Linked DNA regions of Homo sapiens: all the other regions are linked to region 1. The links come from fine-mapping of genetic effects on gene expression. A gene starts in region 1. Each other region holds a variant in brackets. All regions are shown on one strand. Distances are between the middles of the regions. Region 1 holds the start of EPDR1 (ependymin related 1). Region 2 overlaps EPDR1 (ependymin related 1). Region 3 overlaps EPDR1 (ependymin related 1). Region 4 has its middle 54 kb from the start of EPDR1.

Region 1 (7,654 bases):
GGCCAGTCTTTTTTCTTCGGACCAAGAAAAAGAACCTCTGGCAGTTGTTTTCGACACCGGATACAAGAGGGTGCGGGAGAGAATTTCAAGAGAGAGAAAGACACTCTTTGGCTGAAAACTGAACTTTGCTCCCTCTGCCTTAGAGTTTTTCCAAGTATAGAGTTGGGGGAAAATAGGAGCTTCTGCTGCCCTCTAATTCTGAAATATATTTGCTTTCTCCGGTAGGGGGCATGAGGAGCGCTGAGGACAGTTGGGACAATGTCCTGCAAGGCAGGCGAGAGTGCAGTGAATGTCAGAACAGGAGGGTCACGTTGTATAAATCACTCCCACTCCGCCCTTAGTTGTGTGGAGTGTGGTTTGTTGTTGTTGTTGCTAGTAGACAGTTTGGGCCGAAATTTTTCCAGTATAACACTTGGTTTGTTTCTGCTCCAGGAAGTTAACAGAACTGGGGGAAGGTGTGCTAGCATCTTCCAGCTTCAGAAATGTCTTCTAACATTTCCTCTTCCTTCTAACTCCCTGTTCCCCTCTGCAGCATTAGTGGAACCCAGGAGAAAACATTGGGCACCACAATCTGAAAGGTCTCCCCTGCTCTGATCCTTCATGCCAAAGGATTTCCACCTCAGCAGCCTAAAATCTTGATTTTTGATGTGCTCAGAGACTGTTGCTTGAGTTGAGTAAGAAGCTGTGTACTATGGGATGCAAGTATGTATGTTTTGCTTTCTCTTTTATCTTACTTGCATTAGGAAAAGGTAGTCCAATTGCTGGCTCAGCTATCTACAGAAAAGGGAGGATTTATTTATATGAGATTGATGTATATCAATCTTCAGGTGGTAAGACTTCTGGTATATGCTATTTATTAGGGCATCAGCAATATGGAAACATGTTCTCTGAATGTTAATCTTTAAAAACATAGTTTAACTTGAATTTAAGGCACATGGTTTTTCTCTCCAAAGCTTAAACCTACACAATTAGTTTAGTTTTGACTGAGGATTAAAACTAAAGACTAAGGATTAAAACAGCTGAGGAAACAACAAGCACAAGTGACATCTATTGGGAATTTACAATGGTCAAGGTATGAAGCTAAGAACTTTAAATGCATTATCTTATTTTTTAGGGAACATGAATTAAACATAGTAAGTGAAAAGGATAAATGAGACAAATACATTTCAGGATTCATCCAAAGAGTCTGGTTCTTATTTAGGGGAAGCCCAGGGTGTTCTTACACTGCCAAGCCACTCTAGAAAGGTAATCTAGTTCCTATAGAACCAGTCTCCACCTCCAAAGATGCCAAGCCAGGCTAGTAAAATATCACATGAGGAGGAAAGCCCAGATGACATCTCAAGCCATTTCTAGCAGTAAACTCCAATGAGTCTAAACCCTTCACTGGGTGAAAAAGATTTTCAGCTGGAGTTCCTACCTGGGGAGCAAGAGAAAGAGCTGAACTACCCTACACTTTTCCTATGAATCTGAGCAGGGCAAACTCGGAGAGGGCTCAAATTTCTGCAGCCAGTTTGAACCTGCTGCATCTGTTTAACTATGTAAGTACCAAGTCACAAAGTCTTATGGGCTTCCCTGATGTTCTCTGAGGCATGCCCTTTAAGAAAAGGTAAGAGGAAATGAAGAGCCCTTCTTCCTAAAGCTTTGTGCCTGCCCCATTCGGCCCATTGGTAGTGTCTCTGGTGGTTCGACAGACAGGGGGCAGCAGAGAAGGATGCATCAGGAAAACCTGTCAACTGTCCCTCCTCTTCGGGACTTCCAGGGAGGCTGTGATTCTAGAACACCCTACTTCAGCATTCAGTCCATTCTTTCCATGCCTTACATTTATTTAACAAGGCTCGGGAAGTTGCCTCATTCAGTGGCTTCTCTCTGGTGACTCCTTTTGGTCTCCTCAAGTGCCTGTTCTTTGCCCATCCTTTAAATGTCTGGAGCTCTCTGGGGCTCCATCCTAATCCTTCTTCTCACACTCAACACTCCCCTGAACTCCAGGTTTTCTCACCCCCAACACTTAGGACATTTGGGGCCAGATAATTTTCTCTTCATTTGGGAGAGGGGAGGTGGCTGTACTGCACATTGTAGGAAGTTTAGTAGCATCCTTGGCCTCTACCCACAAAATGTCAGCGGTAGCCTCCTCCCCATCTACATTGTGATCATCAAAAATGTCTCCAGATATTGCCAAATGTTTCTTTGCTGGGGAGGGGGATGTGAAATTTCCCCAGGAACCACTGTTCTACTCTTCGGCTTCATTTACCACCTATGTACCTATGGCTTCCTAATCCAAAAGCTCTGCTGGTTTCCAGAAGTATTTATCCAGCTGTCCCTTGGATATTTCCACCTTAATACTCCACAGTCAGCTCAAGATCAACCAATCCTAAAATGAATTGATCATCTCTCCTCACTCAGGACTGGATTCCCAGTGGCCCAAACCAGAAACCTCTCTCTCTGAGTTGAAATGCTTCTCTACAGCTCCCACCTGTCTTCCACCCTTTCCATGACCACTCCCGCTGCCTTAGCTGAGTCAGGATCATCTCTTTCCAGGATGATAACAGTAGCTTCCTCCTCTCCCTGCCTTCCCTCTGGCCCTACCCTTTCTGTTGTCTAAGTGGGCTTTCTAAAGCATATGCCTGATGATGCTCCTCCCTAGCTTTACATTGATTGATAGTTCCCACAGTCCTCAATATCAATGACAAATTCCTTAAAATGAGTGCTATGGCTTCAGAGTACTCCTCTACCTTGTCCTTGAACCCCAGCATTATTCTTTTCTTGTCCTTATGCCCTTCATTCAGGAATGTTATCTCCCACTTTCACCTGGCTCAATCTTAATCATCCTTGAAATGCAGTTCAAATGGAAAGACGCTATACATTTTTTTAGTTCCTTTCTTTTTTCTTGATTTCATACTTTATCACTATATTTTTAGAGACAGGGTCTCGCCATGTCACCCAGGCTGGATGGAGTGCAGTGGCATGATCATAGCTCACTGCAACCTCTAACTCCTGGGCTCAAGCGATCCTCCCACTTCAGCCTCAGGAGTAGCTGGGACTACAGGTGTGTGAGCCTCGCTCATTCCATATTATAGATCCTAACATTACATAACTATAAACCCAATTAACCTTATTCTTGAAGAAGCGAAACCCCCCAGACACCCAAACCACTCGGCTGGTGGTATTGCCAGGCGATGGGAGGAGCAGTCTCACTGCAATGTGACCTTGAGGCTATGTCCATGAGTCCTAGGCCCAATGCAAGGGGCTGTCTACTAGTCTCCTAGACTCTTCACTGGGAATGGGAGCTGAGGAGCGGCCATGATGAATAGCTAGTATCATTTCTTCAGGAAAAGACTCGTCTTTCCACTTTTAATTTGGAGGAAGAAGTTTGCAATTTTGTCGAGGGGCAATGTAGGCGGGGCAAACGTTTGCACAGCAAACGCAGCAGCTCTGCTTTTCCTATCTTGACCTTGAACTTGCCCCTCCCTGTGTGATTACCTGTTGAACACTGAAGTTAGTGGAGAAACACACTTCTCAGCACAGTCTCCCCCCATCCCCCCTCTTAAAACACGATGCCTCCCAGGATGCTAGTGGCACCACTGCCACTGCATTTCCTGTTGGCAGCAGTGAGCAGTGAAAACCGAAGCGGCAGAAGGCAGTGGCAGCAGGCAGTGGCAGCAGGCAGTGGCCCAGGCAGAAATAGCTCCCGCGCGATTCACTGGAGCCTTCCCCGGGCCCTGGTCCCGGCTACCGGGACTCGCGCGTCCGGATCTCAAAAGCGGCAGAGGCCACCGAAGGGACAGGAAGCACTTTGGTCCAGACCACACTCCCGGCACAGTGCGGAAAGAGCCGGCGGGAGCCACTCTGATCCCGGACGCCTCAGCGCCCCCTTGGGCTTGGGCTTGCCCTCGGGCCGGGGAAGGCTGACCGCGATGCCAGGACGCGCTCCCCTCCGCACCGTCCCGGGCGCCCTGGGTGCCTGGCTGCTGGGCGGCCTCTGGGCCTGGACCCTGTGCGGCCTGTGCAGCCTGGGGGCGGTGGGAGCCCCGCGCCCGTGCCAGGCGCCGCAGCAGTGGGAGGGGCGCCAGGTTATGTACCAGCAAAGTAGCGGGCGCAACAGCCGCGCCCTGCTCTCCTACGACGGGCTCAACCAGCGCGTGCGGGTGCTGGACGAGAGGAAGGCGCTGATCCCCTGCAAGAGGTACAGGTCATCGGCCCGCGGGGCGGGAGTAGGGAGCCGCGCGGGCATGGGGAGGGCGAGGTCGCAGAGGCCTGCGCCCTGTAACTCTTTCCGGCCCCTTGCAGCTCCTCCCTTCTCCCAGAGAGATCTTTCGCGAGGAGGGTCTCTTGGGGATAGCATGGTCCGGGACTGGGAGGGGCGCTGCGCCCACCGAGGGCGGCCTGCTGGCGGGGGACTCAGTAACACCCAGCGAGGCGGTGGCAGGTAAAGAAGGGACCCATCCAGGGCGGGATCAAGCTGCAGAGTGCCCCATGCCCAGGTTCGCCCCTGTTCTCACGCTGCTGAGTCAGGCTCTGGGCTCATGGAGCCCCCTGCAGTCTAGGGCGTGTCTTCTGCGCTATCTCATTTCTTTCTAGAGACATCTGCTAGAGAGGCACGCAGAATATGTATTTTCTAAGAAATACTTTTTGTATTTTAAAAGAATATGGCAAGATTACAAACGGTATGGGAAAGTGATAAAAAGAAAATTTCACCCACAAACTTAGCAAATTGTTACAGCATTAAAATTTTGGTCTACTCCTTTTAAGTTTTTTGTTTATTTTAAAGCAAATTTTACATACTATGATCAAAAGCCATACGTTATCTGAATCTTTTTTTAACTTAACATTGTCCCTTATATGTTCTTATTTGCCATTTTATTAGCTTGCCTCCTATTTTTAATGGCTGCACAGTATCGCTTACAGGGGCAAAGCTGTAAGTTTCTTTTAAGTATTGGTCTGACCATTCACCTTTTCACATCTGTTGTGACAAAGGAAACCCTCTTTTTGAGATGTCATCTCGCTTGTGGCCCCTTTAAGACCTGATTTCTAATTTGGGATCACCACCTGTCTCCCTTCCAGAGCCCTGCCGTTCCCCCTAAGTGTGTTCCTCTCACTGGCCTCTCTTTATGGCATTTGCATCATTAGGAGTTGCAAAGTGAATTTCCATGGTTTGAAACGCCAATGGACTGTAAGATCTATAGCAAAAGGGCACCATTAGTTTATAGAACAAAACCAAACTTGATAATATCATTTATTCTAAAAGCATTTGTTCAAGTATTAGGCGACTTGAAGAAAGTACGGAAAGGGCAGACCCTTTCAAACAATATCAAGGGTGCAAAATAATGCATTATGAAATGCAGCACAGAGCAGCACAGTCATCATGGTGGACTGGGAATTGATTCGAAGTCTTTCAAGAACATGAATGTTTTCAGTAGGGTCTTGAAGGGCACAGTAATAATAATAACAACTAACAGTTGCATACTTATTATATATGAGGCATGACACTGAGGACTTTACATCTATTATATAATTTAGTTTAAATCTCACAATAACTTGACAGTATAGGTTTTATGATCTCCATTTTACAGACAATAACTCTGAGGTCTAGGGAGATTAAGCAACTTTCTTAAGATCACACAGCTAATGCTTGAGGAAGCTAGGGGGGGGTTCTGACGCCTATGGTATACCAGGTTCACATTCATTCATTTATTTAACAAGCATTTGTTCATGTTAGGCACTGTGTATAAACAGAATGGCTCCTGGCTTTCAGGGAGGTCAGAGTCTGGAGGTGAAGTCACATAAATAAAAAAAATTTCCATACAGTGGGATGAGGGGTGAGAGCTGGGGTTGTGATGAGAAGAACTCAGTTGGGCACCTAACCCAGGCTTCCTGGAGGAGCTGAAATGAGAGTGAGTTCCAAAACACCTGTACAGGTTTTCCAGGGAGATGTGGAGAGACTGCTGGTCCAGGGGGATGCAGGTGTATCCATGCCTGGTATGTGTGTGCCATCCCGGAGTTTTTAGAGCTGAGTAAATTCCAAAAACCACAGACCACTCACTATTAGGGCTGAAGCCCAGGACATGGCGAAGGGTCATACTGAGGAGTTTTAAACAGTGGAATTTGTGATTAGATTATATAAAGATCCCTGGATGTGTCCTTAAGAATGCATTCCCAAGATGTGGACACAAAATGGAGCCATGTGGAGCAAAAGTGGAAGTGAGAACACAATCTTGGAGATTGTCGTAGTGGTCCAGGTGAGAGATGGGTAGTAGCGATGGAAATGGTGAACAGGGGGCAAGTGAATGCATTAGGGAAGTATTGAAGAGGTTCAACTGAGGAAAATGTACATGATTGGACGGGTTGTGGCAGGCGTGGTGAGGGAGAGGAAAACGTTAAAGAGGCCCCCATTTTTGGCTTGTGAAGCTAATGGTACTGATGGCATAGGGTAGATGGTGATGCTGTTCCTTGCAACAGGGCTTGACTTTGTGCACTTCTAATTAAGGGTGCATTGGTATCCTATGTAATTTTATGTGAAGACTTGTACAGTAGTGGCGCATTGATGAATAGTCATATTGAAGATGGACTGGGATGGCCGAGAGCACACTGCTGAAGCAGAGGAGTGTGTCAAAGAGAAGGATAAGGGTTCATCTCTCCAAAGGTAGTATTTTTTTTTTTACAATTAAAAAAATTAGACTTTAGAGTCAGACAAATCTGGATCTGAATCCAGACTCTGAATATGGGTCTTTGGGTAAGTTAATAAAGCTTTCTGAGTCTCAGTATCCTCATTTACAAAATGTGAATACTTATAATGCCTAATTTATTGGATTATTATGGGAATTAAATGAGCTCAAGTGTATAAAACATACAGTACAATGTCTGATAGTACGCACAAGATGCTCTGTTCATGGCCAAGGTTGGTCCCATCGCTACCACTATCATCATTATCCTGGTAAAGTTACCATAGCCCAGAGACTTGCTGCCAGCCCTTTGGGCTCAGAAACTTGATACAGCAGCACACACAGACCCTTCCTTTGGGAACAACCTTCGAGTAAGGAAACTCAAATGCTAAACCTGTCTACTTCAATGAGTCTTATTGCTGGCATGAGGACCAGCATTCTCAAATCCACCAGACTAGGTCATTCTCTCCCTGTAGTCAGAACTATGTGGGGAGCCAAATTATCATCAGGCAGTTGTGAGCAAAGAGTTGGAGCAAATTCATTGAGCAAACATCTAATGATTGCCTGCCCTAGGTTAGGCTGTATGCTCAATGTGGAGTTTTCCATCATGAATAAGACAGGCCAGCCTGGGGTAAGGTTTAATGGTAATCAGGCAAAGGCAAAGTGATGCATTGATTTTCACAATAGAGATGACTTGGTGGTGGTTCTGTGCTACCCCAACTGTGCTGTTCCTGACCCCTTCCACTCAGAATGGACCCTTGGTGAGTACTGCTCAAGTCTGTCTGAGCAACCCTTCTTCCATGACTCCATGACTGACTAATATAGCCTTTAGATGTGTGTTTTATACCTTTAGTGGAGTCACAGCCAACTCTTGCTGGCTTAGAAGCATTTTTGTCCCTTTGCGGTGATTTCTCATTCCTCTGCCCTAATCCAATAGGTGCTGGTTTCACAGTTAAACTTCTAAAAGACATTGTTTTCCCTTTCTTTCCGAGTTCTTG
Region 2 (7,654 bases), 35 kb after region 1:
TTCCTTATGTGTTGAATGTGGTTGAGTTTGTCCATTGCTAGGGAGAGACTTCCAGTAATAAAATTTACTATTCTAGATGCTTCTACTGTTATGTTTTATCTGCCCATTTATCTTTCTTAGTTACCAGGAGAAATGTGTGACACCTATATTATAATGAAAACAATCTCATTACTTATAGTTTATCTATATTAAACAAATTTAATTGCATTTTAAAGCATTCTTTGATACTGTTGCTTTTGCAATAAATATGGATAATCTTGGTTATAAGGGAGTTAAAACAATGCTGTAATAAATAAAGTGCTTCATGTGATCAAAATCAAATTTGTTATCCTCTCTCAAAAGCCTGCTCTCCCTCTTACCTTCCCTAAACTCCAGTGTCCATTTGCCAAGGCCAGAAGCTTCCAAGTCATTCTTGATCCATTTGTCTCCCTCAGTCCTCACTGGCAGTCAATATCCCGAGTCCTATCAAAATAGCTCTTAAAACTTCTGCCTCTTCTCCACTCCCTCAGCCACCACCCAGCTCTGGGCTCTTAACATCATTGGCCTTTGCAGGATCTTCACACCCTCTGTCCTTGCCCTCGTCTTTTTTCTCTAGAAGCCATCCTGTGTTCATTCATTCATTCATTCATTCACTTGGTCAGCCAAATCACAAGCCAGTACTAAGCACCTGCTCCCTCCAGTGCCCATGCAGGTTCCTGGGGTTGCAGAGGATTGTGAAGTTTGGCCATGCAGGCATCTGAACCTCACAGACAGGGAAGAGTTTCGCAGCTGCATTCTAGGTGGCCCAGCCTGCTAACGCCTTTGTGACCATGTTTGCCACACTTCCTGTCTCCCCAACCACAGAATGATCCTCTCCTCTCCAAGCTGCACATCTCTCCTTAGCCCTGGGACTTTGTCTTTGCCCATTGCAGGCCACAACCTTACTCAGAGAGAGAAGGAAACTCCTTTTATTTTATGGAGGCCCATGCAAAGTGGGTACCCTTTTGTTTTTCAGTTGGCCTGTTTTGGTTATTAAGCCACTTCACAGAAAGGAGTAAAAAGTCCAGAAGGATTTGACATCTGGTCACATCTGATCTGATGGCGCCCTGCCTCTGTGGTTCTTCACTGCTTACAAGTAAAGTGGAGACCCCATAGCATGGTGGACACACCCTTTTTCATCAGGCCTCTGAGTCTTCCCAGCCTCACTCCTTGGCACAGTTTCTTCTTTCCCTAAATGCCCAAAGGGCTTGAGGAGTAATGGCTGGGTCACCTCTTGGTGGCAGGAAGGTTTCCTTACTCTGCAGTCTTATGTAAAAACTTTCTAGTGGCCACCAGAGTCACAACGAAGAGGGCTATTAAATAGGTGTGGACTTGTACCTATTAATAAAGTGCAGTATCCCAGTGCCTCACTCATCTGCAGAGGTGGTATCACTGATAGTGGTCTGAGCCAGGGCTGGGTACCACTTTGTGGATACCCCACCTCATATGTCTCTGAACTTTATGCTGCACTGGAACAATTTACTTCTACTTCTCCAAATGAAGCCTTGCCACTTCCAAATTGCCAGGATCCAGGCAAGCCCCAGGGTGTGCTTGACATACACCTGCCTTCAACTCTGCCACCCTGAAGGCCCAGCTCTACGACAGAGCCTTCACTCCCCCTATCTCATGGGCCATGTGGAGTCAAGGAGGCCCAGCCTTTCTGTCCCCAATTGCTCTGTCATCAGGGTGAGTTTCTTACCATAAGCTTTGCTAATTGAGATTCCTAAAATTGGGACACATTTTAAAATTCTTTAAATATTTAATGAAGGCCAAGAATTTTAGGTCTTTGGGAAATTTTTCAATTAACTACTAATAATTTCCCGCCAAATTAAATTTGACATAATTTGAAAACAAAACGCTCACCTCTTGCTGGGTTTCCTTTACCAAATCCACTTTCTCTGCAGTCCCAGCTACTCAGGAGGCTGAGCTGGGAGAATCGCTTGACCCCAGGAGGTGGAGATTGCAGTGAGCCAAGATTGCACCACTGCACTCCAACCTGGGCAACAGAGAGAGACCCTGTCTCAAATAAGCAAACAAACAAACAAACAAACAAACAAATAAAAGCCTTCATTTTCTCAATGTTGCCTCTGTTATTTTAAATCACTTTGCCTATATATCTACCTGCAGCATATGGGGTGTTTTTACATTTTTCCACTTACGTAGATCTTGTCTTTCTACATCCACAGAAAGCACCTCAAATGCAGGAATGCCATTCTTGTCATTCTTGTTGAGTGAAAATAATTTATATTGAATGACAGAGTAAGCCTCCTCAGCCAAAGACTTGTGAATAACTGGTGATATTTGAAGGCTTTGTAGGTGAACACCTCTTTAAGAGACAAATTTAACTTTATTTATGGATATTCTGATATCAACAACCATCTCTTTTTGGAATGATGCTAAGATAATAAATGATTAGAACATATTTTTATTTGTTTTAAAGCAGAATTATTAGCTCAACTGCATGTGTAGAAAAAATACTGGGCCTATGATTTGTTGTATAGTTTATTCAGGGAGAGAGATGCTTCCCTTAATGATATCCTAATTTTAAAATTTATACTGTTTTCATTAGAGCAAAAATGAACACTTATTTTCAATATTTATTTCATATTTAAAGTTGGAAAATATAATGTAGTCTCAGCATTCAAGGAGTGGGCTATAACTATCCTATAATTTAGAAATAATATCAAAGACTTGGAACCAACCCAAATACCCATCAATGTTAGACTAGATAAAGAAAATGTGGCACATATACACCATGGAATACTATGCAGCCATAAAAAAGAATGAGTTTATGTCCTTTGTAGGGACATGGATGAAGCTGGAAACCATCATTCTCAGCAAACTAACACAAGAACAGAAAACCAACCACCACATGTTCTCACTCATAAGTGGGAGTTGAACAATGAGAACGCATGGACACAGGGAAGGGAACATCACACACTGGGGCCTGCCAGGGGGTGGGGGGCTAGGGGAGGGATAGCATTAAGAGAAATATCTAATGTAGATGATGGGTTGATGGGTGCAGCAAACCACCACAGCACGTGTATATCTATGTAACAAACCTGCACGTTCTGCACATGTACCCCAGAACTTAAAGTATAATAATAAATAATAATAATAACTTTTTTAAAAAGAAATAATGTGCAATGAATACAACACACTCAGGATTTAAGTAATCTGAGTATATGCATGTGTTGTGTTGTGGTTGCAGTTATATCATTCCCAATGGCATATTGTATATTTATTTTAACATACAACTGTTTAAATCACACAGCTAAGTATTCCTTTCCTTCACCAAGATAACTGATGGCAAAATAGGTACTCTTGTTACTTAAACATTACTAGCATTATTGCCATTTTTACATAACCTCTATGATTTTAATAAAGAAAATTATGTAAAAAAAAGAAGTCAAGGCATTATCTGTTATTGTGAGAAATGGGTTTTCAAGCCTAGAATATGTTACTTAATAACCTCTCAGCCCTAGTTGATTAGTTTCTCAGTCAGCCTGGGAGAATACCTGTTGGGAAATCACTGGTCTTAGTTTCCCAATCAGGAGGCACCAATCTAACTATTGAAAAGTCCCCAGTTAACCAAATACACAAACCTGCTTAATTAAAAGTGTAGTTTTGGGATAGACATGTGGGTATTGATATATGTATTAGAAAAACTTAGGGTCTGTTGGTTTTGTTTCACTCCTGATACCAGAAATGATACCTTTCTTGCGGGATCGTGGTATATCTGTCCTCTCTTATTATATAAGTGCATTTTAGCAAAGCTTAGTTTTATATTAAATTCAATTATAAAATGGGGGATTCTTTTTTAAGAAAAATTAAAATGTGTAAAAACTAAATTGAAAATCTTTGATGAGGAAAAAACTAAGATAAAAGTTGTTTCTAAAGCAGTTCTGTGATCACATTAGTTGATGGGCACATACGGGAAGCAGTTGCAATTTAGTCTCTTTTCAGAAGAGCCCTTTGCTT[T/G]TAAAGAACTTTCTGATTCTAAAGTGTTAGGTGACCTTGTCTCAGTAGCTGTGGCATCTCTGAGGGCTTGGGGATAATGAAGTGAAGATGTAGACTGCCCTGTCTTGAATGATCTTAGGACATTTTAATAACCTTAAAGTGGACATTAGAATAATGGGAGTGGGCAAAATGACATCATCTCAAGCCCAGGAAAAGTGTATGTTTTTATGATGTTTCTTATAACTTAAACCTCCCTGTACTTAACACCTTTCATAATTTCCTCCAGGTAAACCTATGTTCCTATCACCATAACTCTTATCACATAAAAAATAACTAATAGCACTGCAAAGATGTTTAGATGTATTTTAAAACTTCAAACATCTTGGGACTGAAGACGTTACTTAGATCCATATATGTCCTATCCTTAATACAAAAAATATCATGATGATAGCAATCCTATAATCCTATCTAGCTCAAACTAACTATATCCCAAGCAGCAAAAAGAGGTGAAGAAGAAGGAGCAGGAAGGGGAGGAGGAGGACACGAAGAAGAAGAGGAAGAAGAAGAAGAAGAAGAAGAGGAAGAGGAAGAAGAATAAGAGGAGGAGGAGGAGGAAGAGGAAGAGGAGGAAGAGGAAGAGGAAGAGGGAGAAGGAGAAGGAGAAGAGAAAAAGAAGAGGAAGAAGAGAAGAAGAAAGAGAAGGAAGAGGAATGGAAGAAGAAAAAAGAAGGATGTAGGGGAGGAGGAGAAAACATTTATCACCATAAATTCTCAGTCCAAAGGGCTGTTGATGTATACAGATGAATAAACATGAGAGTAGCACAAGCCACAATGGAGCAGCACTTTAGAGATTTTCAGTTCAGTTGCCTCCCCTTTAAGTTTCTCTAAATTAGAGCATTTCCAGACTAAACGTTCTTTCCTGAACCATGAACCATTGGCCCCGCCTGTCAGAAATTTAGAATTATTTCCATGTCTATGTACCTCATAGTACATGTTGACATTCAATGAGGAATAAAAATAGCCTTAAAAAGAAAGCCTGCTTGTTCAGGGAATAATTTCTCTGCCTTTTCAGTTCAATACATTTAAAATGAGTTTTATTTTGTCTTCTCAAAACAACTAAAGTTCAGTATTATGGTGTATTCAAGTGTGTAGGTATTGAACCTCAAAGGACTTTTTAAGTTTAACTTTGTATGGAAAGTATATGATTATGTAGGTAGTCTTTGGATAATAATGGGTTATCAAGTGATTTTGAAAACTCTCAGATCCATCTTATTCTTTCTAAACCTCTTACTTTCCCTGTTCAGTCATGAGAACTCTGTATTTCCTGAGTGAAGAAAGAGGAGGAAACAGCTTTATTGAGGTAATTCAAATAGCTCAGATAATAGAGGAATGAGAGTCTATTATGGAATTTGCAGTAGATGTCCCTAGAATGGAGATAAGTAAAAATTTTCCCCAGACTCCTGCCATATGTAATCATTCAGTACAACCATCCTGTTCAAAAATAAGTTTGTTAACAAATTTTCCATGTGTCTCTAGAAGAGTGGTCATCAACAAATCAACTTAACAAAGTCAGGCATAAATAGACTAAATTTAGGTGCCCCAAAGTTGGAAATAAGATTAAGCTCTGTGATTGAAAATATAGGACTGATACCTAATAAATGGATAAAGTAGCTATTTAGAGATATACATCACAGAAAGAGAAGGTCTTCAAGTTTGGGGCTATAAAACTGGAGAAATCATGAAGTCCGATGAAAGCAAGATTGCCATTGAAATGCAGTCTCATCAAAGTTTAATCAGAATTGGGGCTGATGTAAAAGAACACTGGAATGTTGTAATTTCGTCTGAAAATGAAGTGTTTTCGCAGAAGGATGTTGGTTTACATGGAGTTTAGTTAGGGAATCTTAAAACCAAGGATTTGGCAGTGTTTATCTAACTGTGTCCAGGAGAGAAAAATGTGGAATCTGGCAGTCATATACAGAATGTTGGGGACAATTATGAGATTAAAGTCATGTGTCATTATTTTGCCTAAGATTTAGGAATATTTCACTTCACTCTCCCTGTCAGGGATCCACAACAGAGCAAGGTCAGGAGACAGCAAAGCAAGTCATCACCGTTACTTAGCTGGAGCTCTGGCCCCGAGCACTTCTGTGGACGTCTGGTCAATCAGGCTAGACCAACTGGAGGAAGTGGAGGCCAAAGTAGCCGCAGGCCAGAGCAGGCCAAATTACTAGTTCTGTCCATTCTACTGCAAGTCCCAACACAAGTAGATCTTACCGCTCCCAGGTCAGCAAAAGGGCACACAGAGTAGACCCACTGGCGACAGAGGAAAAGGAGCAAGGACAAGGAAAGAAGTTTGTGCCTTGGTGCCCAATGCTGCCTTCCTCAGACCTTGGGCTGGTCAGAGCAGTAGCTAACCTGCATGGGAGGAACATCCAAAACAGAGAGATTTGGCCAGGCCTGTTGGTCAAGCAGAATCCAATAAGCTCAGAATGATCCCTCCAAACTAGGTAACTTTTCTTCTGATTAGAAATTTTACTTCTCAAGTAATTTTTTAAAATCATAACTGAATATCCAAAATGGCAGATTTAAGTATTTCACTCACTGGAAAAGTTTAAAACATCATTGCAAAATAATGCAATGTTTTTCTGATTTATTTCCCAGTCTCTTAAGTTAAATTGCTTAGTGCATGTCAGTCTGTAAGGGAGGCTGTGCAGTGTAGTAGAAAGGATGAGGATTTGAAACCATACTTACCTGAGTTCAGATGCTGATTCTGTCCGCCATTACCACTGTGTTACCGTGGACAAGTCATTTGAACAGTCTATGAACCTAAGTTTCCTCCACTTCTAACAAACAAACGAACAAACAAAAAAGGTGGCATATGGGGGTTGTTAGGGTTAAATGAAATAGCATTAGAACGTGTGTAGCACACAGCTTTGCAGGCAATCAGCACTCAAAATATTAGATGTCTTCTACCTCTGGCTTCTTTCCCCCTGAGATCCTGATCAACCCTCCATGGACCAACAAAATCAAACCTGTATGACTGTATGAATCTGCTATGGATTAGAGCAGGGTCCTGGAGGCCTACAAAGGCAGTGCCCTCAGTGGGCTCTGCTGGACCCGTCAGCTAAACCATTCCCTAAGGTATCTCTGTCTGTTCCTCATTGCTCACATTCGTGTGCAGAAACATGCACCCACCTCTAGCCATGCTCAGGCAACGTCAAGTATAATATACATGTAGTTTAAAAAAAAACCCCAGCAACTTCCCCTTAATAAATACATCTCTCATGAACCCTGGCATTTTGCACATAACATTTTTTTTTTTTTTTTTTTTTTTGAGACGGAGTCTCGCTCTGTCGCCCAGGCCGGACTGCGGACTGCAGTGGCGCAATCTCGGCTCACTGCAAGCTCCGCTTCCCGGGTTCACGCCATTCTCCTGCCTCAGCCTCCCGAGTAGCTGGGACTACAGGCGCCCGCCACCGCGCCCGGCTAATTTTTTGTATTTTTAGTAGAGACGGGGTTTCACCTTGTTAGCCAGGATGGTCTCGATCTCCTGACCTCATGATCCACCCGCCTCGGCCTCCCAAAGTGCTGGGATTACAGGCGTGAGCCACCGCGCCCGGCCAACATTTTTAAGATAGAGAAAATAACAGTAGTATCAACCTCAATCTACATCAGT
Region 3 (7,654 bases), 24 kb after region 1:
TATTATTTCAAAATCATAGAATAAAGCAAATAAATGTTTTTGTTAATGTTTTTAGGAAGCATGATTTTTATTTTAAGAGGAAAGATATATAAAAGATATACAAAAAATAGGGGGGAAAACCTGTAATGTTAATTTAAATGGAAAATATCTATATGAATTCGAGTTTTTTTTTTCTAATTGGAAGCTCTGACCACTTGAAAAGCATTCAAAGCAATGTCATCTCAATGGCAATGAGCCCATCTAGTGCCCTGATGTCAGTTTCTAAGTTGTTTCCCCACTAAGGGTAACTAGAGTTTTTTAGAGAAATGCCTGATTTCAGATCTGGGACAGGGAAAGTCCAAGGTTAGCCTGTGCCACCTTGTGTCGTAGAACATCGGGAAGCACTCAGAGACTAATAGGATTATGTCAGAAGATACATGTACCAACTTGAAGGAGCTCCCTCTGGCCAAACTTGGGTAAATTTTAGCATCAAAAGGAATAATGACTTTAATTGTTTGTCATACATTGAATAAATAATAAATCCATGAGTCCAGAGTGGTACTCAATAGACTAAGATAGATGGATGTCATTTACTATACCATTGGTACTATGATCCTAACTCCCAGTGAAATAATTGATTCAGGAAACGGATTTGCCTAAAACCATTAGGTGACAGTTATTGGGTAACAGGACATTTCCAACATCACAAAGTATCACTCATCAATTACTTGCCAATTGCAAAAGGAAACACTTTTATAACAGATATCTGGAGTCACCATATAACTTGGTGATCAAAGTTAGCAGCATTAATAGTGGGAAGGTACATCACCTGTCTTCAGATATGATAAAGTCCAAAGTATACAACCTCACCAATGACATGTTATTTACAAACATCTTGGAACTCAAATCGAAAAGAGCCTTTAGACTTCATATCCATTTCATAAGAATGACAAACGCTCAAATAGCAATTTAAATGCCACCATGAGGAAACTGCCAAAGAAATCCACATTGTGGAATATCTGCAAACCTGAACTCTTCAAAGAGTCAATGTCATGTTGGAAAATAAAAAGGTAGGAGTACTGCTCCAGATTTTTGATAGAGACATAACCAAATATAATGCTTGAACTTTAATTGAACTCTGATTTGAAAAACCAGCTTTAAGATGTATTTGGGGGGCCACTTGAATATGGAGCAGATATCAGGGAATGAATTTTTATTTCTAAGATACAGTCCTATTGTGACCATGTGGCAGAAGCTCTTGTTTTAAGGAAGTATTTAGAAAACTAGAAAAAATACAGTAAAATGTAGAGAATTGTTGAGCCTAGGAGGCAGACATAAAAGTGGTCATTATACTAGTTCTCCAACTGTTCTGCATATTTAAAATATTTTATAATAAAAATTAGAAAAATTAGATTTATCTTTTTACTTAAAAGATTATCAAGGGCAAATTGTTGAATTTAAAATGCATAGTTAGAAAACAAATAAATGATAGGCACTCATTTGCGTAAAATGAGTATAGTACATATTGAAAAATCAATCCAATGTTTGTACACCTATGTTTATAGCAGCATTTTTCACAATAGCCAAAAGTTAGGAAACACCTAGGAATCCATCAGTGGATGAATGGATAAATAAAATATGGTGTATACATACAGTGGGATGTTATTCAGCCTTAAAAAGGAAGGAAATGCCAACACATGCTACAGCGCAGATAAACTTTGAAGATATTATATTGACTGAAAAGAATAAATATTGTGTGATTCCACTTACATGAGCTATGTAGAGTAGCCAAACTCATAGAATGGTGGTTGCCAGGAGTTGGGGAGAGGGAGGAATGGGTTATTATTGTTTAATGGATATAGAGTTTCAATTTTGCAAGAGTTCTGGAGACTGATGTACCACAATGTGAATATATTTAACATTACTGAACTGTACACTTAAAAATGGCTAAGATGGTACATTTTTGTCACATGTATCTTGCCACAATTAAAACATAAAAATTTAGATATAAAAATTAATACGTACATAAAGACATATTTAGAAGAATATATGTCCAGACACATGTACAGAGTTGTTATTTCTGTAAATTAGAGTTTCTTGGCAATTTTTGCTTCCCTTTCCATCCCTAGATTGCTTAATTTTTTTATATTGATCATGAATCTGTTTTACTAAAAAAAAACTATTTTCAAAAGCAAGAAAACTTCCCCAGATTTTCGGTGTTTCAGAAAACATGGTGATTCGAGAGCCTACTTTTTAGGGAAATGGATTTGCAGGAAACAATGGAAATTGTCAATGTAACCTGAGAATTTTAGTAAAAGCAACAAAAATCCTTTGTCCCATATGGTGAGAAGCAAAACAGGCCGCTGGCCCGTCCTGTGTGTTGTGGTTGCCGTGGAGAGCTTGGCCTTCTGAGCCTTTGGCAGGGCCTAGCCAACCTGACCTTGCTCACAGCTGAGGCTCAGCAGCAGCAGGGCCTTTGTGGGAACTCGCCTGCCCCTCCCAGTGAACTATGCTTTGCTTGGTGCCTGGCCAGCAAGGAGGCGAAGTTTGTCTGCTGTTGTTGACCTGGGCTGGTCTGCCTCCCTGTCCTGAACACCAATTCCAGCATCTCACCTTGCTTGACTGTGCCCCAGCGGGGGCGTTGGTGCCTCTCATCTCACAATTGCCTCTGTGACAGAGCCAGTCTTTGATCTCGCCTCCAGGAATCCAATTCCTCTCAAAGTCTGTTAATCCCTTGGGTCCACGGGTTATTCCCGTACAGCATCCCCACTCTGATTACTCATCTCAACCGTGGCTGATCTTTGCATTTTGACCTTTGGTCCCTGTCAGGCCACAGGCCCTGTATTCTATTTGTGATGCAGAGACTTATGTCCTAACTGTTAATATGTTCACATAAACACACACGCCACTACAGTATCATTAAAATGTTTTCTAAAATTTGTCATAGAGCAGTACTAGCATTTATATCCACATGGGATTTTGAAAACAAATTATATAGTTCTATTTTGTTTTCCATTAAT[T/A]TATTATTTTCAGTTTAACTTGAGGTACAGTCAACATAACCTCAATATCAGATGATGTCTACTTTTAAAAAAGCAAATATTTTGAAAACATAGAAAAGTACAGAGAACACCAAAACGAACACTTGTGTTCAGACCACCCAGATTTAGCAAATGTTAACATTTCATAGTGATTGTTCCGGGTCTAAAATTCTCATTTTAAAATTAAATTTTACTTCTGTATGTGGGCAGAGCGGGCCTCAGGGAAACAGTGAAGCTGTGAGTGTTCCCTCCCTGCTGTCCCCTGCCCTTCTGTTGCAGGTGACTGACCAGGCATCTGTGGCCCTTGATGCCACACAGGGCCATGCTGGGCCTTTCCCAGCACAGCTGTGCTGGCAGCTGCTCCCCGGGTCTCTCCATGGAGCACTGGAGTCCTCAATTCTAACAGAAATGATAGAACTGAGTAGCATAAAAAGCTGCAAGCCAAAAATGAAGGAAAGTTTATTAGAACAAAGGAAGCTTATTGTAACTCTGTAAGCGGGGGTGCTCCAAGCATCTCAGAAAAAAAGAGCCCAGGAAATGAACAGCTGTTGGAATCCCAGTTTGCTAGTGCTTCTCTCTGCTTCATTCTTTAATCCTATTCCATTTGCGTTTTGGAAAATAGCCTCCCTCAGCTTCGAAATTTACATGTGGTATGTCCAGCCACATAAGAGGCTGACTATTAGACCTCGGTTGCCATGACACAGGTCGAGATGAAAGAATCTCATTGTCTCCTCTCTGGTCTAGTAAACTCTGGTGAGGAAGGTAAATATGAGGCTAGAATGACATGTATGACAAATATGAGGCTAGGAGGACTGTATTAGTCTGTTCTCATGCTGCTAATAAAGACATACCTGAGACTGGGTAATTTATAAAGGAAAGAGGCTTAATGGACTCACAGTGGCAGAAGAAGGAAGAGCAAAGGGACTTCTTACGTGGTGGCAGGCAAGAGAGAGCTTATGCAGGGGAATTCCCATTTATAAAACCATCAGACCTTGTGAGACTTATTCACTACCAGAAGAAAAGCATGGGAAAGAACCGTGCCCATTATTCAATTACCTCCCCCCAGGTCCCTCCCATGACACATGAGAATTATGGGAGCTACAATTCAAGATGAGATTTAGGTGGGGACACAGCCAAACCATATTAATGACACTTCTGTGATCCTGTGGATTTGGGGAGTGATGGCGATGATTTCAAGAAGGAAACCCCCTCTCCTGCACATGGCTACATATTCTCCAGGGAACAACTATTGCAGTCTGAGAAGCACACAACAGGGATATCAGCAAAAGCTAGGAATGCCTTTCTAGCCCAGATATCTAGCACTGGGGAAAGCACAAGATATTGCTGGTGGTGAGGAGAACAATGAAGACAACTTGTTTTTTGGGTGGCCCACGGGTCATTAAAAGTATCACAGGACAGGATTTGTGTATGGACAACAATTCCCATATTTACAAATGAACAATGCTCTAAGAGTTGGGTTAATGTTGCTGTGTTTCTTCAATCAGTGCTTAGGCTCTATTGTGTCAGAGATTTAGCTGGTTATGAGAAAACAGTGACAATCCAAACCCAAACTTTTTCAAAGGGCTAACAGTTTTACGTTGACCCTGCATGCATATTATAAAAAATTAGCTCCATTTTTGAGCAATATCTCATAAAATGCACACTTATATTTCTTTCTATATTCATTCTCATTTCTAAAGGTATGTGTCTGGGTTATTTTTACCCTTGTAAGCCGTTTCAAATCTTTTCTGAAATAAACAAGATACACATAAAGGTGTAAAATGATGTCATGTTTATATTTCCATACTACCTCATAGAAACCTGAAGCATACGGCTACTAATAATACAATGATGTGCTTCATAATGACGTTTCAGTCAATGAAGTGGTGGTCCCATGAGATTACAATGGAGCTGAAAAACTTCCATTGCCTAGTGACCTCATAGCCATAGTATGTGGTAGCGCAGTGCATTACTCACATGTCTGGGGTGGTGGTGGTGTAAACAAACTTACTGTGCTGTCAGTTGTACACAATTCTAGCATATAAGTAATTACTGTATTATACTTTTTTTTCTTCAACTTTTATTCTAAGTCAGGGGTACATGTGCAGGATGTGCAGATTTGTTACACAAGTGAACGTGTGCCATGGTATCTTGCTGCACGGATCATCCCATCACCTAGGTATTAAGCCCAGCATCCATTAGCTATTCTTACTGATGCTCCCCCTCCCCCAAGCTCCACCAACAGGCCCCAGTGTGTGTTGCTTCCCCGACGCGTCCATTTGTTCTCATCATTCAGCTCCCGCTTATAAGTGAGAACATGCAGTATTTGCTTTTCCGTTTCTGTGTTAATTTGCTGAGGATAATGGCTTCCAACTCCATCCATGTCCCTGCAAAGGACATGATCTTGTTCCTTTTTATGGCTGCATAGTATTCCATTGTGTATATGTACCCCATTTTCTTTATCCACATTTTCAGTCTATCATTGATGGCATTTAGGTTGATTCCACGTCTTTGCTATTGTGAATAGTGCTGCAATGAACACAGGTATGCATGTATCTTTAGAATAGAATGATTTATATTCCTTGGGGTATATACACAGTAATGGGATTGGTGGGTTGATGGTATTTCTGGTTCTAGGTCTTTGAGGAATTGCCACGCTGTCTTCCACAATGGTTGAACTAATTTATACTCCCATCAACAGTGTAAAAGTGTTCCTTTTTCTCCACAACCTCGCCAGCATCTGTTGTTTTCTGACTTTTTATTAATAGCCATTCTGACTGGCATGAGATGGTGTCTTTTTGTGTTTTTGATGTGCATTTTTCTAATGATCAGTGATGTTGGGCTTTTTTTCCTATGTTTGTTGGCCACATGTATGTAATTACTATATTATACTTTTATCGTTATTTTAGAGTGTGCTCCCACTTACATAAAAGGTAACTGTGAAACTGCCTCAGGCAGGTCCTTCAGGAGGTATCCAGAAGAAAACATTGTTATTATAGGAGGTGACAGCTCCATGCATGTTACTGGCCCTGACAGCCTTCCAGTGGGACAAGATGTGGGAGTGAAAGAGGGTGATACTTATGATCCTAACCTTGTGTAGGCCTGGCTAATATCTGTGTTTGTGTTGTAATTTTTAACACAAAGTTTTTTTTTTAATAAAATAAATTTTAAAATAGAAAAAAGCATATCAAATAAGGACATAAAGAAAATATTTTTGTATAGCTGTGCAATTTGTGTTTTAAGCTGTCTTACTACAAAAGAGTCAAAAAGTTTAAAAAATCAAAATGTATATAAAGTTAAAAAGTTACAGGAAGCTAAAATTAATGTATTATTGAAGAAAGGAACATAGTTTTTATAAATTTAGTGTAGCCTAAGTGTACAATGTTTATAAAGCCTACAGAAGTGTATAGAAATGTCCTAGGCCTTCACATTCTGTCACCACTCACTCACTCACTCACCTACCCAGAGCAACTTCGAGTCCTGCAGGCTCCATTCATGGCAAGTACCCTATACATGCGTACCATTTTTTATATTTTATCCCATATTTTTACTGCACCTTTTCTATGTTTAGATACATAAATGCTTACCATTGTGTTACAGTTGCCTCCAGTATTTAGTGCAGTCACATGCAGTACAGGTTTGTACCCTGGGAGCAGTAGGCCATACTGTGTAGCCCTGTTGTGTAGTAGGCTGTACCATCCAGATTTGTGTAACTGCACTCTATGATGTTCGTGCAGTGATGAAATAGCCTAATGACACATTTCTCAGAACATAAGCCTATCATGAAGTGACGCACGACTGTGTTTTGACTATAAAGACAGTAACCATTTCTAACATTTTTTTCCGAAGAAAATAGTTTTTAAGCTCGGGCTTGGGCTGGAGAGCAAATGTCTTCCCTGAAGTCTCCTCTAGTGCATTGGGTCTCATAAGCCACAGATAATTTGTTGGCTATTTTTATTTGCTGATGACAAGTCACTTCTCTAGGCTCTTCAGCCCTCAAGTGTTGCAGATTTCACTTTCTGAGGTCATGGCTGCAAGACACATTTTCTTGACCAGCAGCTGTGGCCTGAGTTTTAGATTGACAGTGAAATGCATAGAAACACAGCAGGCTTCCCCCAACACCAAGATGTCTCAGCTTTAAGGAAGATACAGGACTGATGCCAATACTGCATGGCTGGTGACTCCTGGGCTCAGCCTCTGAATATCTCCCTGTCACTCCCCAGGAAGGGTGAGCAGGTGGTCACGGGAGGAGGCTGAGAGCATGGAGAGAAACTCAGCTAAGGGAGTCATTTGCTCTGGGGTCGCCTCAGCTTTTGTCTTTGCTCTCATCTCAGCCACTGCAGGGTATGTGGGCTGCGCCCGTGCCGGATCAGCTATGCGCATCAAAGCCCCTTACTCATGACTGCTCGGCAGTGGAGGCAGTGAAGCACAGGCACTCGGTCCATCCAGTCCTCAGTGTGTTCTTGTCCTATGTTCAGTATACCCCCATAATTCCTTGACTGAGTGCTGTGAGAGAAAATGCACCACACAAGAGTCAAGTCCTCCTGTGTCTCTGTGGGTAAACAAAAGTTCACAAACCAGCTCTTCAGCCGGAGCCATATCTTCCCCATGTTTGTATGCTAAGCACAGGGTCTGGC
Region 4 (7,654 bases), 54 kb after region 1:
TAAAGACAAACAAACAAACAAAAAACTAGTAATTTTTTCAACAAGTTTGGAATCAATCATTCTTGCTTTCCTTTAAATTTGATCTTCTTTCAACTATACCACAAAGCCTTGGTCACTGATTTGGGGAATTAACCAGAACTTCTGTGTCATTCTGGGTTCTGTCACTCTTGTGAGGACTCAGCTACCATTGAGTTCTCTGTGCTTTTTCTTTGCACAACTTGTACTGAACCTGTACGTTTAAGTTGAACCAACACAGCCAGAAACCCAAACCAAATGGCTGACAGCAAATACATATAAGCCAGGGACCCATCAGTTCAACTGAGACAATCTCCTCTGTCCTATCCCTTAAATTTCTCCCATCTTATTACAATTTTTTTTCCTTCTAGTCTAGGTTTCTCTTCCTGATTTGGCTCAGCTTATACTCTTGGATGTGGGAACTTATTTTTACTGGCTCTAACTCAATACTAATTAAGGATTTTCCTCCTGGGACACCAAAGGGTGGTCTTCCTGGACTTATTTCAGGTCCTTGAATGCTTTATGACTGAAAGCAAACTCCTCATACTTGTCTACCTGGCTGGTACTCAGATGCTCCAACGCTGAAGCCCTGTAGGACAGGGGAGATTTTAGAGAGGACATGGAGAGGAGAATCCAATCAGAGAATGGCCTTTGGGCACTCCAGCAATGGCTCTCATTAGCGGATTGTACTTATCCCCCTAGCAGGAGTGTTATATTGAGGAATTTGAAGGAAATTTTGTCTAGCAAGAACTGTCTGCTTTAGTCATCATTAACGGACTACATTGAGCAAGTGGTCATTCAACCAAATTCTCATACATAGGGCGAATTCCTTTCTGTTCAACTCAGTTAGTCATTCTATCCTTGGGGACTCCAAAAGGTTTTGTGCAAATCTCCATTAGGAATATACAGTAATCACTCCCCAGCAGTGAGTTTCTTTGTTGGGTAATTCCAATAAATGTGTCTCTACTTCTGGATTTCTTTTCCTTACTGCCCAGAATTTTGCCTCCATTACCCATGCACTTTAAATTCTTGGGGAGGTTTATGTCCTCATAATAAGCTCTAGCCGTGACTTCCAGGTACCGGTGAATCATTCCATGCCCCATGCTTGCTGCTATTTTTTGTTATTCACATCTTGGCACTGATTGAACATAGATCCAACCCCTTTCTATTATTTTTACAAAGAAACAAATTACTCAAGGTCTTTACTGCAATTTTAGGCAGATAGAAGGAGCTTACAGGCAGTACAGAATGCACCCTAAGATTGGACATAAAAATTTCTGAAAATTCTCATGGAAATTGTAGGCACGTGACTTGGTCATCTCTTTAAAAAAAAAATCTTCTTTCTTTTCTCCTCTCTCATTCCCATATTCCTGTGTTTTTCTAACTGAGAGCAGTTGAGCTCTTTCTTTAATGTCCTGTTGTTTTCTAACCAATGCTCTCAGTGACTCAGCTCCTAATCTCAAGTGGTTAATTAAGGTATTTTGCTAATTAAGTCAGTTGTTTCCATGAGAGTTGACTACTGGTATGATTTTTTTTAACAGAACATAAACATAAAAGCATTTATTGTTAATAGGGTAGTAATACACCAAAATGGATGTAAACACATATCTTTCCTTTAATCCAACTCTGCGGGTATTTTTTTTTTAAGAAATATACTCCAGTCTGGGCATTCACTGTCTCCTTGGCAGAAGCATATTTATAAGTCATCCCACCCCTCCCTCCAGGCCATGTGAGAAGAAACACCTGGCAAACAGACTCTGAGCTGAGCATCTCACATCTTCTGGAGCTTCAATGATGAACAGGTAATTCCCCACCTGTCATCAACATCATGCTATATCCTAAAAATTAGGCAGAGATATGTATCAATTTATTTGCCTAATAAGCAAACCAAGTTAACCAGTTATTAAAATAATTTTTTTCTCACCCTTCACACCAAAAGTCAAACCACTCTGTGTCTCTGGAAACTCAGTGAACCCAGTCAGAGGTAGTCATGAACTTGAAGTTTGAAAATAGGAAAAACAGAGGACATTCTATTTTGGTTATTGCAGGTAATAAAAATAGGCAGTTTAAAAGGCCTGCATGTTAGTTCAAAACACTCATCTGATTTATGCCTTTAAGAACTTAATTTTTTCCCTTGACTATTTTGAGAAATCTTACCTTTATGATTGATGAGGGGCTGCTGTATCTTTCTGAATTATGATTCTTTCCAAGTCTTCCCTGCTCTGTTCTCCAAGCTTCTTTAAGTGCTAGTAAATGTAGATTAAATGAATGAATGGTAGATAAACAAAAGAATTTCAGAAAGAGAACAGAAGGAAAGAAGAAGAAGAGACAGACAGAGAGGAAAATAGAGGAGATATGGGAGAGAGAGAGAGAGAGAGAGAACTGATTGCTGTAATTCATTTATTTAAAACAACATTATCTAGAATAGTCAGTATCACCTAATAGAAATGTGTTATTTAAGGGGAACACTCAACCCATCAGCAATAAAAAAGCAGCTAGGACACTCCAACTGATATTCCATATCATAAACTAGGTCAATATAATTTATTAAGATTATGTGATTGATAAGGGAAGTAACTTTTCTGGTTAGATTTTGGGGAAATAGTGCAAAAAAAAAATACCAATGTTTACTGTCCATTTAAGCCCTGTGCTCATGTTTTCATTTTTGTGGGAAAAGGGAAAAATGATTCTGGATCATGCCATTCCTCATTTCTCTGACAACACTCTCTCAAAATTCTCACAGTACAATATTGTTTTAAATACTCAGTGATCAAACACTTTCATCTGAAACTAGAAAATATTTAAGAAGAAATAAGACAACTGGTGGTTTTATCCTCATCATTTTCTTTTCCTTCATCCCTTCCTTTCTTCAAAACCCTAGCAAACGTCATACGTACAAAAGAACCGCTGCCTAACCACAGGTTTTAATTCAAGGAAGGCAGAAATTTCCTCTCCCAAATAAATTTCAAAATAATGAAGCCAGTAATTCAATAAAGGAAAGAAAAATAATATTTTCATGGAGGAAAGTTGCCTACTAATGCAGTGCCACAGTTTTCAATCCAAGCTGCCCCCAAGCCTTGATAGTGGCCAAGAAGACTGATTTCCCAGAGAGTCTCCAGAACAGGAGTCATCAGGGACATTCTCTTTCTTTCCTGCTCCATGATTGTATCTGGTGTGGTCACCATGGAAAGACAGGCCTTCAGCTGAGCTGCCTTTGAACTGTGTGAGCTTAGCCCTGTTTGAGTTGAGACAGGCACTGAGAGGCATAACTATGGCTCTGCATTTAGTCCACATCAATCAAGGAATTGTCATGTCTCTTCCTGACTTTGTCTTAAGCACCTTGTAGGACAGATAAGAAGCAGTATTTAGAATGTCAGAGCA[C/T]GACTAAGGGGTGTAGGTGGTCAAACCTCATAGGGGCATATGACTAAGCTTTCATTTCTGAACAATGGTGATAACAACAGTTTCAGAAAGCACCATTTCTGGAACTTTTACTTTTGACACTGATATTTTGCCAAGAATTTACATGCATCTTTATAGCCAATGATCCTCATTATAGAAGGATGATGATCACTATTACCACCATTATTCAGAAGAAGTAACTGAGCCTCAGGTAGGTTAATCAATGTACCCAGGTTCAGTAGGGCACACCCATGGAGAAGCTATAGTATGGAATTCAGCTGTCTGCTGAAAATACCCATGTTTTTAACTGCTATGCAAAATGATGTATTTATTATGGAGAAGTCATTTTAAAATCAGGTAGAAACATATAAATTTATGATCCATAAAACTTAAAAGTGTTTACCCATTGTTTGTTGAGTTGTGCTCTGGTGTAGAACCAAGGACACTGGCCTCCAAGGGTGGTCCTCCAGCTAAGTTGTCAATCCTATCTGTAGCCACTCCTCTACCCTCTGCTCCAACCACCCTCAACGGCTTATATTCCAACATACTTCGTGCCTTTGTTTAAGCTGCACCATCTGCCTTAAATGTCTTTCTCCTGTCTGAGCAGCTCAAATCCTGCTCATTCCTTACATTTTGGCTCAGTTGTCACGTTCACTTAGAAACTGGGAAATAAGAGAAAGTTGAAGAATGGTTCTTTAATTGAGTTGTGAACCTAGCATGTGTTTTGGTAAATTTGATACTGGTGTGAGTGAAGTGCTACCGCATTACAGAGCCTTTGTGTTTGCCAAGTGAGAGCAGACAGTTCCTACTTTCTGTATCCACTGTGATTCTCCAAGAACAGAAGAAGATTTCTCTCCAGAACAAGGAAAGCAGGGCTGAAAAGCTGCCATTCTGCCTGCAAAATCTGTAATTCCTGTATATTCGAGAGAAAATTTACGCATGAGGGAAGCTCCCATGTTCTTACATATAATATAAATGGGAAAAGTACTAAGAATGTCCAATGTCCAATAAATAAGTCTTTGATCCCTCATGAAATTTTTGATACCCTGCTCCTCTTTTTGCAGTGTGGGTTTATTAGAATTACCTTATCAATGGCATATCAGGTTTCTATTCCTTCCATTAATTTAAGGAAAACGAATGAGCTATATATGCATCTGTGGATAATACATTGTTGGTTATCACATTCGGCAGCTTTAGTGCAGTAGCAATCCCTCCAAATCCCAGTGACTTAACCAAAACCATATACTTGTCACTTGACTTTGTGCATTAGCAGCAGCTTCTTATCTAGGCAGCTCTGCCCAATATGTCTCATTGAAAGCTAAAAAGTGCTCATTCTGGGCACTAGGCTGAAGGAGCAGCGCTTATTTGAGATATATGGTCCTTGTGGCAGACAGAAAAGAGTAAGATAGCTAAAGAAAACAATCAATGGCTCTTAAAACTTCTGCTTGGTAGTGAAGTGTGCACACACACTCACTTTGCGTGGACCAAATCAAGTCACATGGCTGAGCCTGACGGCAATGGGCATGAATATTTATCCCTTCCATTGGAGGCACTGCCAATCAAATTGCAGAAGGTGGGGACATATAATCCTTTTAAAAGAAGGGCAAGTGGCCAGGCATGGTGGCTCATGCTTGTAATCCCAGCCCTTTGGGAGGCCAGAGTCGGTGGATTGTTTGAGGCCAGGAGTTTGAGGCCAGCCTAGGTAACACGAGGAAACCCTGTCTCTACAAAAAATTTAAAAAATAAAAAAATTAGCCAGGTGTGGTGGCACATACCTGTAGTCCCAATTACTCTGGAGGCCGAGGCGGGAGGACCGTTTGAGCCCTGGAGATTATGGCTGCAGTGAGCCAAGATCATGCCACTGCACTCCAGCCTGGTGACAGAGTGAGACCTCATCTCAAAAAAAAAACAAAGAAACAAAAGAAGAGCCAGGAAGTTGTTATTGGTTATACAGTTGGTTATGGCTACTTAGATATTACTTATAATGGGTGTGACCTCTATTGCGGATTGTCATAGCCCGAATTGTGTTCCACCCCAAAAAATTCATGTTTGGTATCCTAAACCTCAGTGCTTAAGAATGTGACTGTATTTCAAGATTGGGTCTTTAAAGAGATAAATAAGGTTAATGGAGTTCATTGGTGTGGGCTGTAATCCAATAAAACTGGGGTCCTTATAAGTAGATGAGAGTAGAACACAGACATGTACAGAGGAAAGACCACATGAAGATGCAAGGAAAAGATGACCATCTGCTAACCAAGAATAAAGGTCTCAAAACATCGGGCCTCAGAATTGTGAGAAAATAGATTTCTGTTGCTGAAGCCACCCAGACTGTGGTACTTTGTAATGGCAGCCCTAGCAAATAGACAGTGATGAATAAATTAGCAGATTTGATGACATTGATATTTCCATTATTTATTTTATTCAACACCTCTAATAATCTCTATTATTATATTAAACATTTACTCTGTATTAAGTATAGTATTAAATGTTCTATATACATTATCTGTTTTATTCACTCAAGACAATTCTATGATGTAAGTACTACTATTTTCCACATTTTGTATATGAGAAAATGTTATATCGATAGCTTGAAGGGTTTGAAGAACTTGTCTAAGTTGACACCCAGGTGGGGAACTGTGATCTGATCCTAGGTCATCTGAATCCAGAATCAGCTTTCTGCCACCATTATCAAGGGACATTGGATATTCTGTAGCATTTACTAAAATCAAGAAAGTTAAAAAAATATAAACATGAGAGATCTATGATGCCCATCTTGAGGAGTTCACAATCCAGTTGATAAAAGAAAAGAAGAAATAAGTATAATCCTAGAGAAGATAAGATAAATGTCATGTAAAACACTCTGTCCAGAATTGTTATTTATAACTTGGATGAGGAAATTGATGGCACAATAATAAATGTTGCTGAAGATGCAGCTGAAAGAGATGTTATTCCTTGGATAACACTCAAAATTTTAAAAAGGTGATACATAAAACTATCTTGTCAGGCTGGAACGATTGGCCAAATCTGGAGAAACGATGCATGATGAACAAATAAAATAAATTTCTAAGTACAAAAAAAACTGGATCAGAACAATAACAACAAAATAATGTAGTTTGTTGTGTGAACAAAGGTCATTTTAGTTTCATATTAGTCAGCTGTATCACTCATTGTGGACTAAGTCATTCAACAAACATTTATAGGGTGGCTCCTAGGAGGAAGTGGAAGGAAGTCACTGCTCTCAAGTTGTCAGTCCAGTGGTGAGAGAGACACATGAGCAAATCATGATACAAGGATCTGACAGATGCCTTTAAGTGAGTCTGAATGAAGCACCTCGGTAAATGGCAGAGAAAGGAAATAATTTTTGTAGGTTCATGAGAAGAGGTTGAGATGGGAAGGAGTTTGCTGGGCAGAGAACCAAGTTCATGATAATCTAGGAGGAAGAACAGTAAGTGAATATTCAATTGTATGAAAAAGCTCTCCCCTGTTTGGAATGGCTGAAATACAAGTTAAAACACCAGCATAGGATGAGGCTAAAATTTTGACTGGGATTCGGTTTTGAAGGGCAGTACAGTTAATGCTGCTGAGTCTGGCCTTCCTCTTGTATGTAACAACAAGGTAATAAAAATTTCTAGAGGAGCAACATGACCACATTTGATTTTTTGGAAGATAATTGTTGCAAGCAATGTACAGAAAAGACTGGAGGGTGGAGAGAACAGATTCAGGGAGATCAGTTAACGAGTGGTTGCAATTTTCCAGTAAGAGAAGTTGAAGCCTAAGGGAGGTAGGTTCTGCTAAAAATACTGACACTAATGGTACAGCTGTGGCTCTTTCCACTGTCCTGGCTCAAAGTGAAGTTTTGAACTGTTTTTTTGTTTTGTTTTTTCTGAAACCACCCAAGTTGAGCTGCTGGTTCCTTCTGCACTACCCGGTCCCTTCCCGTGTCCACAGTTCTACCCTTTCTTATACGGGCCTTAAAAAGTGCTGGGGTATTGATAAATGTTTATAGTACAGTTGAGATGGGCTGACTGAAACATCAGGATGTACACGGGTGACATTTCTACTGGGTGCTCATGGGATGAGTTGTAAGCAGCGATCAGAGGAAGAACCTTCACGGGGGACAATGAAAAGCAACGCTAGCAATTGTCTTTGGCAGGACAGAGTGCAGCACTCTACTGAACATGACAGACAGCCTTCAGCATGGCTTAGCTCTGTCGCCTGTTGACTGCCCTTGGGCTGGCCA

What was found.
Region 2: its variant is fine-mapped to the expression of EPDR1 in whole blood (TOPMed, PIP above 0.99).
Region 3: its variant is fine-mapped to the expression of EPDR1 in lymphoblastoid cells (GENCORD, PIP 0.95).
Region 4: its variant is fine-mapped to the expression of EPDR1 in whole blood (INTERVAL, PIP above 0.99). The same link has a PIP of 0.9 or more in platelets.

Annotation. Positions count from the first base shown.
Region 1 is chr7:37,917,029-37,924,682 of GRCh38, forward strand. It overlaps EPDR1 (ependymin related 1), which reads left to right and starts at 3,612. Exons shown (of 3, transcript NM_017549.5): 1 at 3,612-4,180. The coding sequence starts at 3,912. RefSeq lists a silencer at 3,857-4,306.
Region 2 is chr7:37,951,621-37,959,274 of GRCh38, forward strand. EPDR1 (ependymin related 1) reads left to right here. Exons shown (of 3, transcript NM_017549.5): 3 at 1-316. Among named protein-coding and RNA genes, the nearest start is that of EPDR1, 35 kb to the left of the region's middle. The variant T/G (reference allele first, on the strand shown) is at 4,000.
Region 3 is chr7:37,940,634-37,948,287 of GRCh38, forward strand. The region is part of intron 1 of EPDR1 (ependymin related 1); the gene reads left to right. Among named protein-coding and RNA genes, the nearest start is that of EPDR1, 24 kb to the left of the region's middle. RefSeq lists a silencer at 3,594-3,888 and enhancers at 6,826-7,347, 7,348-7,654. The variant T/A (reference allele first, on the strand shown) is at 3,000.
Region 4 is chr7:37,970,800-37,978,453 of GRCh38, forward strand. No RefSeq gene overlaps it. Among named protein-coding and RNA genes, the nearest start is that of EPDR1, 54 kb to the left of the region's middle. RefSeq lists a silencer at 4,508-4,802. The variant C/T (reference allele first, on the strand shown) is at 3,397.